2 separate regions of the Homo sapiens genome follow, and region 2 is linked to region 1. The links come from fine-mapping of genetic effects on gene expression. Tissue or cell type: naive CD8 T cells. Region 1 holds a variant in brackets; the other region holds the start of a gene. All regions are shown on one strand. Distances are between the middles of the regions.

Region 1 (7,680 bases):
CCTGTTGCTCCGCCCACTCCCTAAATACTGGCTCTCCTTGTTGCTCTGCCCTTGACCCTCTTCGAAGTCTTCTCACTGCCCACTCTGGCAGTGCCTCCGCCCTCTTTTATAGCACCAGCAACACTTCTGCGCATCTGGCTCCTACATCTGAATCTCCATCGCAGTTAGGCTTCCAGAGCTGCTTCGTGTCCCCAGCTGCACCCAAGATTTTCTTTTCAGCCTTGGATAGCAACTCAGTCTCTCCTCCTGACTGCCCCCTTTCATTCTCTTTTCTATTCCTTCCATTACCACCCTGATAGATGCTCATCACCTAGGTCACAGCCCTGTTCTCTTCACTGCCCCTACCTACTCTGATTATCCCACCACCAAAACACCACTTTAGTTCCATTTTTCCTGTGCTCTTTGAATGAATCTTTTTTTTTCTTTTTCTTTTCTTTCTTTTTTTTTTTTTTTTTGAGATGGAGTCTCGCTCTGTTGCCCAGGCTAGAGTGCAGTGGTGCAATCTCCACTCACTGCAACCTCCCCTTCTCAAGTTCAAGCCATTCTCCTGCCTCAGCCTCCCGAGTAGCTGGGATTACAGGCACGTGCCACCCCGCCCGGCTAATTTTTGTATTTTTAGTAGAGACGGGGTTTCACCATGCTGGTTAGGCTGGTCTTAAACCCCTGACCTCGGCCCGCCTCAGCCTCCCAAAGTGCTGAGATTACAGGCGTGAGCCACTGCGCCTGGCCTGAATGAGTCTTCTGAGTAAAGTCTTAGGAACTCTTCAGCCTGGTGTCTGAGTCCTACCAAGTTCTGCCCCCAGTTTACTTTTCTCCACCTACAGGTCTTTGTGGCCTAGCTCCCCTGAGCTATGACGTATTAGAATGGGCCAGGTACCCTCCCACGTTGAAGCCCTCCCCTACAGCTGCTTCACCCCGGGATTCCATTCCTTCACTCCATCTCCTGCTGCCAGAGTCCCTGCAGCTGGGCAAGCTGGAATGGTTCTAGGAATTTGAATGGGGGGATGACCCAGGCAGAGTTCTACGGTTGACCTCGAGTCCCTGGAAAAAGGAGAGGGCTTACGTCTTTAGTAACTTCTCCCAAAACTGTCTCTCCAGGAACCAGTGACCAGGAAAGACCATTGGGCTCCTTTGAAAAAGATTCCTCCCATCCCTTTTTTCCCCTACCAGATGCCAGCAGCTCTTCCTTGCCAGAGATGATCTGACCCGGTGGGGGCAGCTGGAAAGCAACACTGGCCCCCAGCTGAAGGGCCCAGCTGCAGCCAGACAGATGGTGCTTGAGAACCGAGGCCCGGTGATCCTCCAGCCACAGTCCAGCCCAACCACTGCCACTTTCCATGGGACTTAGAACTTCGGAGTTGCTGCCTTGCAATTGGAGGAAGGACCTGGGGCCCCTATAGGCAGCAGCCAATTACAGCCCCTTTTGTAGCCAGGCGTTCCTATGGTCAAAGAGTGGAAATGCAGGAACCAACCTCCCTTTAAAAAAAAAAAAATCCAGAAAGCAGATAAAAGTTGGAATATGGAAAAGGGCAAGATGACCCCCACCAGAGGCTCTTTGGCCTGAAGGTGGAGTCTCTGCCTCCGTCCGTTCTCTATCTCTCCTGTCACAGACTCTGCCTGACCCCCTTTCCTCAGCTCCCTTCTGGTCCCCCTTCCTCAGCTCCCTCCGGGCACTTGTGCCCTTCCCTTCCATGTCCTCCTGTATCTCAGCCTTCCCCCGGGGCTGCTGGCCCAGCACACGAGCCCTGCACCCAGCCTGGGTGGGAGGTCCCTGGCCAGTCCCCCAGGAACTCTGAGGAGCTATGGGCTACTGCAAAGCATCTGCCGACTGCCCTGCCCCGTCTGGCCTCATCAGGCTGCTGCTGTTAGGGATGGGCTCACTCCCAGCAGCTCCCGGTCACCCAGCAGGGATGGGGAGGGTGGCCACCCTGGAGCTGGAGGACTCTGGGGAGGCAGGGTCTTTAATTTGGCAGCAGACAAAAGCCAGTTCTGGAGTCACACCACAGTAGGGGCTCACAGGGGCTCTGACTCCCCAGCTGGACTGGAAGCCCTGCTGTCCGAGGGTGGGCAGCGGTGGGTCCTGGAGTGACCCCTTTGAGCAGGTGCAGGGCTAAAGAGCAAGGCGGAAAGGCCGCCAGCCTGGGTGAGCGCCTAGGGCATAAGGGCTTGCTGGGTGCCCCTGAGAAGGGCGGGTGATCTGAGGAGGAGAACTCTGATTCTAGGAACGCTTACACGGCACTGACCACTGCCACGGGGAGGGAGGCTGCCCAGCCCGTGGCCCCGCCCTGGACATGGGAGCGCGCAGACCTTCCGGAGAGCCGGGAAGCCTGGGCAGGCACGAGGCTTCGGCGCGGCTCTGGGAGGTTGGGAGTGGCATCCGATCCTTGGCCGGGCCCTGGTGGCCTCCGTGGCCCCAAGATCACAAGGGCGTAGCGAAGGCGAGCCGGCGATCGCACCTCGTCCCGCCCACCCTGCCCGGACTCGCAACGCCGAGCTTGGGGAGGGCCGGGACGCGCAGCCGCCGCCGAGCGTGACCAAGTTTGGAAACGCGCGCGGGGCCGGGACGCTGGCTCGGGGGGCCCTGCCGAGGAGCGGTCGCCCCCTCCGCTGCTCCCCGCGCCAGGCCTGGGGCCCTGGAGGGAGGGGGGGGGGTCTCCGAGGAGTGCCTCGGTACCCCAGCTCGAGTTCTCGACGGGTCTCTGAGCCTTCCCCGCGCCAGGACCCGGCGCACTGTGGGGGAAGCCCCAGCCCCATGTCTGTTGAGTGTTGCTTTGTTATTTTTTTTCCTCCTATGTGTGGGTTTTTTCTTGGAGCTGTTTCATAGGAATTCCTGTAATAAACAGTTGGTGTTCTCTTGGTGCTCTGATGTGGCCAGCGGCGTGGGCTGGACCCTCCTGCTCCCTCCTCCCTCCCGGCCTGGGGCAGGGTTTGTCCCCAGGAGCCCCGCGTCGCATCCCTAGGGTACCCCTGCCTTGCCTGGCCCATTCACCCGCGGCGCTCTCCGACTGCACTCTCGAGGTGACACCTGCGGCACCGCTGCACCTCAACCTTGCGGACCTGCCGGCTGCGTCTAGCGCTGTCGCCTTCCTGTTTGGCCCAGGACTGTAAACCGCTTGCTGTATCAGGCAAGGGAAACACCATGGGGAAAGCCAGTCTGTTGAGAAAGCTCCAGACGGCCACCTCCCTAAATAAACAGCTTCTGGATTAAAGGCAGACTGGAGGTTGCAGGGAAGTGCAATTTCAGACTTCAAAGGGAACTCAGAGATCGCCCCAGTTGATACATCTCTCCTTCCTCCTCCTCCTCCAGCTCAGCAGGACTACCCCGCCCTCCACCACAGGGACAGGGCCCTCGCTGCCAGAAGAGGAAGCTGGTGCCGTTTCCAGACAGGGCAGTTCTCAAGGTCGAAGTTTTTCCTTGTGTTGAGCTAACGGCCTCCTAGGGGTTCCAACCACACATCTTACTCCTGGGCTCTGGGTCACTGTTGCCAAGGCTGCCTCTCTTGCCCCTGATGCCATGTTTCAGCTCAGTGACCTCACCCTCTCTCTTCCCTGACAACAACTGTGCCTCCTGCACTCCTGCAGGGGCCTCCCCACCCATCAGGGTCTGGCCCCACTCCCAGTCAGACCCAGGGGGGCTTGTAAAGTGGCACACCTGGGACAGGGTGACGCTCCACATGAGCTGTCCTGAGCAAACCAGGATTATCCTCCAGCCCTGGTTCTCTGCGTGGTATTCATTGCCTGGGAAGCTGTTCCAAATGCCAATTCTCAGTCCCATCCGAGACCTACTGAGTCAGAAACTCTGGGGGTGCAGCCCAGCAACCTGTGATTCTGATGCACACCACAGTTTGGGAACCATGGTACCAGGCCAGTACCTAGCACTGGCTGCACAGAATTACTTGAGTAGCTTTAAAAAAAATCCTGGCCAAGACCAGGCTCAGTGGCTTACACTTAGAATCCCAGCACTTTGACAGGTCGAGGCAGCAGGATCGCTTGAGGCCAGGAGTTCAAGACCAGCCTGGGCAACGAAGTGAGACCCATCCCCCAACCCCCCACATCTCTACAAAAAAAAAAAAAAAAAAAAAATAGCTGGGTTGGTGGCACACATGTGTAATCCCAGCTACACGGGAGGGTGAGGGGGGAGGATCGCTTGAGCCCAGGAGGTCGAGGCTGCAGTGAGCTGTGATCATGCCACTGCACTCCAGCCTGGGTGACAGAGCAAGACCCTGTCTCAATTAAAAAAA[T/AT]AGATCCTGGCCCGCCCTTGTGGTTCATGCCTGTAATCCCAGCACTTTGGGAGGCCAAAGTGGGAGGATTGTTTGAGGTCAGGAATTTGACATTACAGTGAGCTATAATTGAGCCACCGCACTCCAGCCTGGGTGACAGAGCAAGACCTCATCTCTATTAAAGAAAAAACGTCCTGATGTTCAGTACCGTAGACCAATTAAATCAACTATGGGTTTTTTGTTTGTTTTTTAAAAAAAGCTCCCAAGGTAATTAAATCTGCCGTCAAGCTTGAGGACCAGCCCACTTGGCAATGTGTTAGGTGTTTTAGCTCATTTGATCTTGCCCAATAACGATCACTTTACAGATAGTATAATTACAGTTCAGAGAGGTTAAGTAACTTATCCAAGATCACAGAGCTAGAGTGTCATGAGGCCAGAAAAGGAGGCTGAGGGCTGCCTGACTCCAAAACTTGTGTTGCCTCCTCTACACCCCTGCTGCCCAAAGTGTGCCCTGTGGACCAGCAGCATCGCCATTCCCTGGGAACTTGTTAGGAATGCGTATTATCAGGCCCCATTCCAGATCTGAATCGGAAACTGGCGTGCATTTTAACAAGACCTTCAGATCATTCTGATACATGCTCAAATTTGAGAACCACAGTTCCACAATCTGACCACTCACAGCTTGGTCTATGGACCAGCAACATTCATTATTACCTAGGAGCTTGTTAGAAAAAGAATCTCAGGCTCTGCCCCAGCCTCACTGGATCAGAATTCGCATTTTAACAAGCTCTTCAGGTGACTTCTATGCACATTAAAGCTAGAGAAACACTGCTCTAGAACACTGGTTCTCAAACTTGCTGTACGTTAGAATCATTTCTGATGTGTGGGTCTCATTCCCAGAGATTCTGATTTAATTGGTTTGGGATTTAGCCTGAGAATCAGATTGTAAAATCCCAGGTGCTTCTAATATGCAGCAAGTTTGAGACCCTTACACCATTTTACCTGTTAGTGTAGATGACACTGGAGATGATTGTAATCAGAGAGAGAAAGAGAGGGAGAATGCTTACCAGGTCTAACAAGGAGTGCAGGAGATGAAGCCTCTGCTGGAGCCGCTGACGCCTGGTTAAAGATGGCTATGGGTCCAGGGGCAGGGACAGGCTGGACCAGATGACTGCCTTAGCCACCTACCCTCACATTGCTTGCTCATCTGCAAGTGCTGAACTCCTGGTATCCACAAGGCGATACTTGCAGATTTATCCTCTGCAAAAATGCAGAGCTGGGCTATCTGAAGTCTGGTCCAGCCAGGGCCCCTTCCCTATCTTGATGATGCTTTGATGTCCTCAGGGATCAGCCCCAACTTAAAAGGCGATCATGGGTCTGGAAAACGCTGTGCCCACAAGAATTGCCTGGTTATTACCATGCTGGGGTCTCAATTCTCCCTTTGTTTTCTTGAAGCAACTGGTTGGAGATAGGGTCTGGGGGGGAAACAGGAGAATTTGCTCTGAAGAATGAAGGAGGCAGGCAAGGTGTGGTATGAAGATGGTAGCTCTTTATCGAGTGTTTATTGTGTGCCACACACTCCTAGGGTACTTTACCGAATCCTTCACAACAATTATATGAAATCAGTATTACTACGTGCGTTTCACACAGAGATGTTAAAGTCCTTACTCAACATCTACCCTCAGTAAGAGGTGGTAGTACCTGCATATGAATCCAGGCAGCTGAGCTCCCGAGATGATACCTAAACACTAAGCATGGTGGGGTCGGGTTGGGATGCAGGGGGATGGGGTTAAGATGCAGCACCTTTGCACAGATGCAATCTGTGGAGCACAGAAGGGCCCACTTGCTCAAAAACATCACCAAAGTGATCCGTGATCCAACAGAGTGCCTGGAACGCCTCCATTAGCATTCTTTATCTGGTTTTAAAAACAATCTCTCAGCATTTCCATTAAATGGCAAATATGCTATTGAGAGAGAAGCACATGAACTCCTTATGCCCATTATCACAGCATAGATTAATTTGTTGGATTAATGGGCTGCACCAGCTGGAGGAAGAGTTGGAAATTTCTGGAGGTGGCCAGGCGGGAGAGGGTGGGCATGTGAAGGGGGCTGTGTAAATCGACTGCCACCTGGTGGTCATCTTGCAGAAGTGGCAGTCACTGGCCACTGAGACACCCAGCACCATTTTCCCAGAAGGAAGATGCGAGCACCTGTTTGGCCTTAGGCCAAAGAGACAGAGGGAAATTTACTCTGTTCACATGGTTATATGTTTTCTAAAATTTGCAAAACAAAGATATTTTAAATTTTTTCTTTTCTTTTTGTTTTTTTGAGATGGAGTTTCACTCTTGTTGCCCAGGCTGGAGTGCAACAGTGTGATCTCAGCTCACTGCAACCCCCGCCTTCTGGGTTCAAGTGATTCTCCTGCCTCAGCGTCCTGAGTAGCTGGGATTACAGGCACCCGCCACCACGCCCAGCTAAATTTTTGTATTTTTAGTAGAGACGGGGTTTCGCCATGTTGGCCAGGCTGGTCTCGAACTCCTGACCTCAGGTGATCCACCCACCTCAGCCTCCCAAATTGCTGGGATTACAGGCCGTGAGCCACTGCGCCTGGTCAAATTTTTTCTTAAGAGAGCCACTAAGATTAGATAAGCTTCAGGCCCCCCAAAACCAGCATCTACCCTGAAGAGCTGAGGCTTGGAGTCAGGTGGCCTTTCTAGAGCGTAAAGAGTCACAGTTCTTTATCAGGACAAGAGGATTATTCCAGGGACTCCAGTGGGAGGAACTATGAAACTCAGTACAAACAGCACATGCTTCCTTGCTTTGACCTTGCCATTCAAAGTGTGGTCTTTGGATACATCGACCAACTGTCCTGGTTTCCCTGGATGCAGAACTTTCAGTGCCAAAACTAGGAAAGTCGTGGGCATACTCGGGTGGGTTCGTTATCCCAACTGCAGATTCGCAGCACTGGCATCAACCTGGAAGGTTGCTAGAAATGCAGACCCAGACCTACTGAGTCACACTGCATTTTCCAAGATCTGCAGCAAATTCATGTGCATATTAAAGATCGAGTTGCTGTGGCTTCCCCAGGAAGAGAGGGGCCCACACTGGCCCTGAAATGTATGCCTTCAAGGGGTTTGGTGGGCTGCAAAACCCCACAGAGTGATTGCAACTGGTCTTGAATTCCAACAATAAAAGGCCAGCTTCTTGCTCCAGGCCTAGCTGGCCCTTTTTTCCCTGGTCACAGTGACATAGGCCTCCCAGGGCATAAAGTACTTAGTTCTCTTCCTGAACTGGATTCTTCCTGGGGGCAAGCCCAGGTTTGGTGAAGAAAAGAGTGGGTAGCTAAATGAAAATAGTTTGTAGGCTGGGCACGGTGGCTTACGCCTGTAAATCCTAGCACTTTGGGAGGCTGAGGTGGGTGGATCACTTGAGGTCAGGAATTCGAGACCAGCCTGACCAA
Region 2 (6,340 bases), 830 kb before region 1:
ATATATCTTATTTGGTTTCCTGACGATAGTACAAAATACTACTTTCATAATATGTTATTAAACCCACCCTTAAAAGGAGAACACTTTATTTTACCATAATTGTGTTTTTCCAACACCTGGTGCACCACAAATTTCTGTTGTTTTCATTAAGGGCACTCCACCCCCAAGAATATCATCTAGTGCTGAACAGAAGGTGATTATGAAGCCCTGGGTATGCTCCTGCTCAAGAAGTTCCAGTGCTGTACACTTCTTGTGTGACTCAGATGTACCAGCATATCTTGGTTTATTTGTGAGACATTCTCTTCTGATAATTTGCAGAGTTTCTAAGGCTTCTGCTTTAGATATCCCAACTTCTGAAAGTAAAATAAGAAAAAAAGAACCCTAATTTTAGAGATTTAAAAGTGTAACATGATAATCGATTGTCTTTATTAATTTGTAGACAACAGTGATGCTAGGAGTGGAGAAACATAAAAATGCAACATTCTATCAACCATTTAATTTTTCAGTTTGGCCGGACACAGTGGCTCATGCCTAAAATCCCAGTACTTTGGGAGGCTGAGGCAGCCAGATCACCTGAGGTCAGGAGTTGAAGACCAGCCTGGCCAACATGGTGAAACTCCGTCTCTACTAAAAATACAAAAATTAGCCGGGCATGGTGGCACGCGTTATAATTCCAGCTACTTGGGAGGCTGAGGCAGGACAATCACTTGAACCTGCACCACTGCACTCCAGCCTGGATCGCACCACTGCATTCCAGCCTGGATGACAGTGCGAGACTCCGTCTCAAAAAAAAAAAAAAAAAAATTCAGCTTAATAAAGGTATTCGTTTTCTTAGTCATCACATAAAGAATTACCTATTACCTCAGAAACAATTCAACTAAAGCATTTCTGAGTACCTACAAGTGTCTCAGGAAGCAGAAATAAAAATGTACTCACTATTACCATATTTTTACTATCCCTTTTGGTCTTATGAAGCCATAATTATCTCGCTCTCATAAGGTATACAAATTATTTTTCAGATGAGAATGAAAATAGATGTTTTAACTGCCTAAAACAAGGTACAACTTTAAGAAGCACATATGCATGTATTATTTATAATAAAAACTTTTCATGGAAATAACTGATGTAAAAAATTCATGTATCACTCCAAACTAATGAGAACAATTATTCAAGGCACAAGCATTTTAAAGAATACATTTATGCTTCCTCGACTACACAATTTCACCCATCTGACAGTGTGGCCTGAGAAAAGAAAATGGCAATTACAAAACAAGCTGGTGAAGAAATAATGGTGAGGATGACATCACTTATCAGTTTGATATATCAGTGCTTGATCTGATAAGAATATGAGCCATAAATATGGGGCTAATAAAAGACAATGGTGATGACAGCATTTAGGAAATGAAAATCCTATCAAGAGCCTGAATGCTGGAATTAGATTGCCTGGGTTTGTAAATCCTGGCACCACTTACTGCATGACTTTGGGCAAGTTACTTCACTTTTTCTTTTTTGCTCAGATTTTTTTCGTCTATAAAATGGGAATGAGACGATACATGTAAAAAGCTTGGTAGAATATCAAGACCATCTAAAGTAGTCAATAGTTGTTAGTGATCATTATTATTCAGGGTCTCACATTTCTTCTTTGAAAAGCCAACTTGTTGAAGAAAAAAGAGCCCATCAAATCTTGGGGGACACAGTCTGCGCGCGGTATGACTTAAACAGTTAAGGCTGGGTCCACGAGACTTATTCTTTAGAGGCGAATTGAAACCTCTGTATTTTCCATCAGTAAGGGCAGTAACTTAAAATTCTGTTCCATCTTCTTCAGTGAATAGCACAGGTCCAGACATGTCATAGAGAGATGTGCACAACAAGTGACCACCGCCAGCCTCATATTTGTATGTCTCAGGATGCAGTGGTTCCCATCTGCAATGCTCTGGAATATGAGGTTTTGGGTGTTTCAGTTAATTACGTAAGAGAATATTCTTTCTATGCTTCCTCAAGATTCCGGGGATTCTACTCTCTTTCTCATTCTTAGTGTCTCTAGTCCTACACAAAATCCTGCATTTCTGAAATTTAACCCTTACCCCTTGGATCTTGGAACAGCAAAAATTAGACAACCAATTCTGACTCCAGTATTTCCTAACCCAGTTAGCATGAAAAGTTACCTAAGCTCCCCAAGATATCAGTTCTCTCATCCATATACTGAATATAATAATCTACGTAAGCGGGTTGAGGGTTAAATGAGACAATCCTCAAAGCATTCAGCAGGCATTGCCAGAGGAAAAGCAATTAGTAAATGTTTTCACGACCACAGTTCTCCTAACCATTCAGACAACTTGTAAGTGGAGTCGAGGAGCTCTTTCACGCTGTAAACATGGACGTGGGAGGAAGCAGAATCTAACGGAGACTGGGCTGAAGGCCGAGGCGAGAGAACGAAGACTGAGGCGGCGCTGACGGCGGCCGGTGTGCCTCAGCTTGCCATCAGGAGTCGTTACCTTTGCTAAGCTCGGAGGGTTTCACCTCTAGGAGTTCCTCAGCAGTCTGGAACCCCGCAGACACCAGCTTCACCCGCACCGCTGGAGACAGCGGGAAACTCACCAAATCCCGCTGCATTTCAAAGCGGAACGTCTTCCCGCGCATCGCAGGCTCACCTGCTAACCCCGGAGCAGCCAAACTCCGCACGCCCTCGCTGGGGCGTGCGGCGTGACGTCAGACGTAAAGCGGAAGGGGCCGGCTCTGCGGCCTGGCCGCACGGGGCTCCGGGCCTTGCAGCTTTGCGCAGTCTTGTAAATTTTCACACTTATGCACCATTCCGTTTTGATTCCCCAAAATCCCATTTAGAGATTCCTCATCAAATGTACACCCTGACTGTAAAACGATGGACGGAGACCATAGGACGGAGAGCCAGGCCCAGTGGGTTCTCCACGCCACATTTCCTTGCCTCCACCGTGGCCTGTTAGGTGAAGCCTCAGAGTCATTAATAGGAATGATCTCGAGTGGGAGTAGTGAGCGTAACGGGCACACACTAGCCAGTTACCATTATTTTGGTGTGAAAAGCTCAGGGAACAATCATTAGAATTAATCTGCGTGCTCTTTGTAGAGTTGCAGTCTCTTGGCTCTTCCCGCTGACCGTCCCCCTTTTCTGACCCCCCCCCCCCGCAACGACCACATTGCTTTTCCCGCCCTCGCGAGGGATTGTGGGCCAGCCCCCAACGGCCGCTGGGAGGGATCAGTCCGCATTCCCCGCACCCACCCACGTCTTCCCGGGAGTCGTATCCCGAGCATGGAGGTTACTGAGACCGTTATTTCTTCATGGCCTGCCTAGCTTAAGCAGTAGCTGGAAAAGTAAGCAACTAATGTCCCCATTAGTGTGTCTGGGCTCCTGGGGTCCTGAGAAGGAGGGGCTGGGCTACACAAGAGCTCCTTTTGTGGTACAGACTTGGGAAGGGGTGTTCAAGCAGTGGTAGTGACCGCCTCTAAATTACAGAACTTCGGGGAGGAAGGCAAGCAGTTTAGAAGGTGGTTTATGAGTTCCTTCCTTGCCTAGGTGAGTGTAACTTATTTAGCAGGGGGTAACTTATTCCCTACCTATTGGCGATTTTTTTTTTTTTTTTTTTGAGACAGAGTCTCACTGTGTTGCCCATGATGGAGTGCAGTGGCACGATGTCGGCTCACTGCAACCTTCGCCTCCCGGGTTCAAGTGAGTCTCCTGCCTCAGCCTCTTGAGTACCTGGGATTACAGGCGCACGCCACCATGCCCGGCTAATTTTTGTATTATTATTAGAGAAGGGGTTTCACCATATTGGCCAGGCTGGTCTCGAACTCCTGACCTCGTGATCCGCCTGCCTCGGCCTCCCAAAATGCTGGGAGTACAGGCGTGAGCCACCGCGCCCGGCCCTGTTGGCAATGATTCTTAGTCTTGACTTTTCTTCCCAGCTTAGAAGAACTTTCTAAATATTGCAAATCAGAGCCCTCTACATACTTAGATCTAAAAAAGGAAACAACGTATGTTGAGCACTTTAGCAAATCCCACACATTTCAAATGGCCATAGCCATGCCAAAAGGAAGATAAGGACATGGAAGCTCAGCATATAGTTTAATATCAATTCTGATAAAAGAAAAAAAGCTGGCCGGGCGCAGTGGCTCGTGCCTGTAATCCCAGCACTTTGGGAGGTCGAGGCAGGTGGATCTCTTTGAGCTCATGAGTTTGAGACCAGCCTCGACAACATGGCGAAACACTGTCTGTACCAAAAGTACAAAAAATTAGCCGGGCATGGTGGCATGCACCGGTCGTCCCAGCTACTCAGAAGTCTGTGGTGGGAGGATCCCTTCAGCCTGGGAGTGAGCTATGATCACGCCACTGCACTCCAGCTTGGGTGATAGAGTGAAACCCTGTCTCAAACAAACAAAACACCTCAGCACAGTTTTCTTAAAGCCAAGATTCAAACCTAGCATCCTTTTTACTACCCCGAGCTATTAAGATTTTGAGTCCCTACTGGCGGGGAGAATACGAGAAGCATTTATACCCCATTTGGTAGGTCAAAGAAAGTCTTGTAGGACTGGCCAAAATGTGGTTGGCCACTCAACCCATTGCTTAACTTCTAATATGGTCTATATTTGAGCGCTCAGTGGATGCATAAATACTATCTTCAGGGAGATTTCATGCTTATGCTTATAAAGCACCCAGATTCTTGGGTGAAGAAAAAACATGGTATTACCACATTCAACAATAAGTCTTCAGTTAGTTTGGTCAAACTCAGTGGAATCAGTCGTGTTTAGAATTTCTTTCGTTGACAGTGGAAAGTTCAAAACTACTTTGGCCTGGCACAGTGGCTTAAGCCTGGAATCCAAGCACTTTGGGAGGCCAAAGAGGGCACATCGCTTGATCTCAGGAGTTTGAGACCAGCCTGGGCAACAGGGCAAAACCCCATCTCTACAAAAAATACAAAAATTAGCCAGCATGGTGGTACATGCCTCTAGTCCCAGCTACTTGGGAGGCTGAGGTGGGAGAACCAATTGAGCCCGGGAGGTTGAGGTTGCAGTGAGCTGAGATTGCGTAACTCCACTCCAATCTGGGCGACAGAGCGAGACTCCATCTCAAAAACAAAACAAAGCAAAATAAAAAAAACAAAAAAACCCCCACTCAACTCTATCTATAGCTGTATAATTTAAGTGCTATTAATATCTTCTGCAGATCACAAGGTCAGGAGATCGAGACCATCCTGGCTAACATGATGAAACCCCGTCTCTACTAAAAATACAAAAAATTAGCTGGGTGCGGTGGTGGGCGCCTGTAGTCCCAGCTACTCGGGAGGCTGAGGCAGGAGAATTGCATGAACCCAGGAGGCGGAGCTTGCAGTGAGCCTAGATCACGCCACCACATTCCAGCCTGGGCGACAGAGCGAGACTCCATCTCAGAAAAAAAAAAAAAAAAAATCTTCTGGCCCTTGCCTATAATAATTATTTTCATCATCATTCTTAAGATGTCTTTAATGCAATTTGCTCTGTAGTCATGCTTTCAAACTGGGATCCAGGTTTTTGAAACCACGCACTAGGAACTAAACAAAGCTATGGGATAAATATGGAAGGTGCACCTTCTTGTGTAATCACTTTTCTCAAAAAAAATCTTTCAGGGAGGGAAGAGTTAAATGATTTACCTAAGTCATTTGAAATGGTTTATATTAAGCAGACATTACATCTGTGTAGTGTGGATAAATCATTAAAATTTTTGAAAAAGAAAATAAACTTTAATAAAACATGGGGTAGGCCGGGCACGGTGGCTCACTCCTGTAATCCTAGCACTTTGGGAGGCCAAGGCGGGTGGATCATGAGGTCAAGAGATCAAGACCATCCTGGCCAACATGACGAAACCCTGTCTCTACTAAAAACACAAAAATTAGCTGGGCATGTTGATGTGTGCCTATAGTCCCAGCTACTTAGGAGGCTGAGGCAGGAGAATAGCTTGAACCCAGGAGGCAGAGGTTGCAGTGAGTGAGATCAGGCCACTGCACTCTAGCCTGGAAACAGAGAGAGACTCCCTCTAAAAATAAATAAATTAGCTGAGCGTGATGTCTCACGCCTGTTTCACAGCACTTTGGGAGGCCGAGGTGGGCGGATCACGAGATCAGGAGATAGACTATCCTGGCTAACACGGTGAAACCCCATCTCTACTAAAAATACAAAAAATTAGCCGGGTGTGGTGGCAGGCACCTGTAGTCCCAGCTACTTGGGAGGCTGAGGCAGGAGAATGGTGTGAACCCGGGAGGCAGAGCTTGCAGTGAGCCAAGATCATGCCACTGCACTCCAGCCTCTGTGACAGAGCGAGACTCCATCTCAAAAA

What was found. PIP is the estimated chance that this variant, and not a neighbour inherited with it, causes the effect.
Region 2: it holds the start of RAD51C, and the variant in region 1 is fine-mapped to the expression of RAD51C in naive CD8 T cells (Schmiedel 2018, PIP 0.95).

What each region holds. Positions count from the first base shown.
Region 1 is chr17:57,856,776-57,864,455 of GRCh38, reverse strand. It overlaps CUEDC1 (CUE domain containing 1), which reads left to right. Exons shown (of 11, transcript NM_001271875.2): 11 at 1,171-3,213. Among named protein-coding and RNA genes, the nearest start is that of MRPS23, 11 kb to the right of the region's middle. RefSeq lists enhancers at 1,545-2,394, 2,395-3,244, 3,245-4,095. The variant T/AT (reference allele first, on the strand shown) is at 4,242.
Region 2 is chr17:58,688,944-58,695,283 of GRCh38, reverse strand. It overlaps RAD51C (RAD51 paralog C), which reads right to left and starts at 2,682. Exons shown (of 9, transcript NM_058216.3): 1 at 2,496-2,682; 2 at 95-353. The coding sequence starts at 2,640. TEX14 (testis expressed 14, intercellular bridge forming factor) reads left to right here and starts at 3,239. Exons shown (of 32, transcript NM_031272.5): 1 at 3,239-3,345. IGBP1C (IGBP1 family member C) reads left to right here and starts at 3,239. Exons shown (of 2, transcript NM_001395966.1): 1 at 3,239-3,345. RefSeq lists enhancers at 2,325-2,494, 2,825-2,924.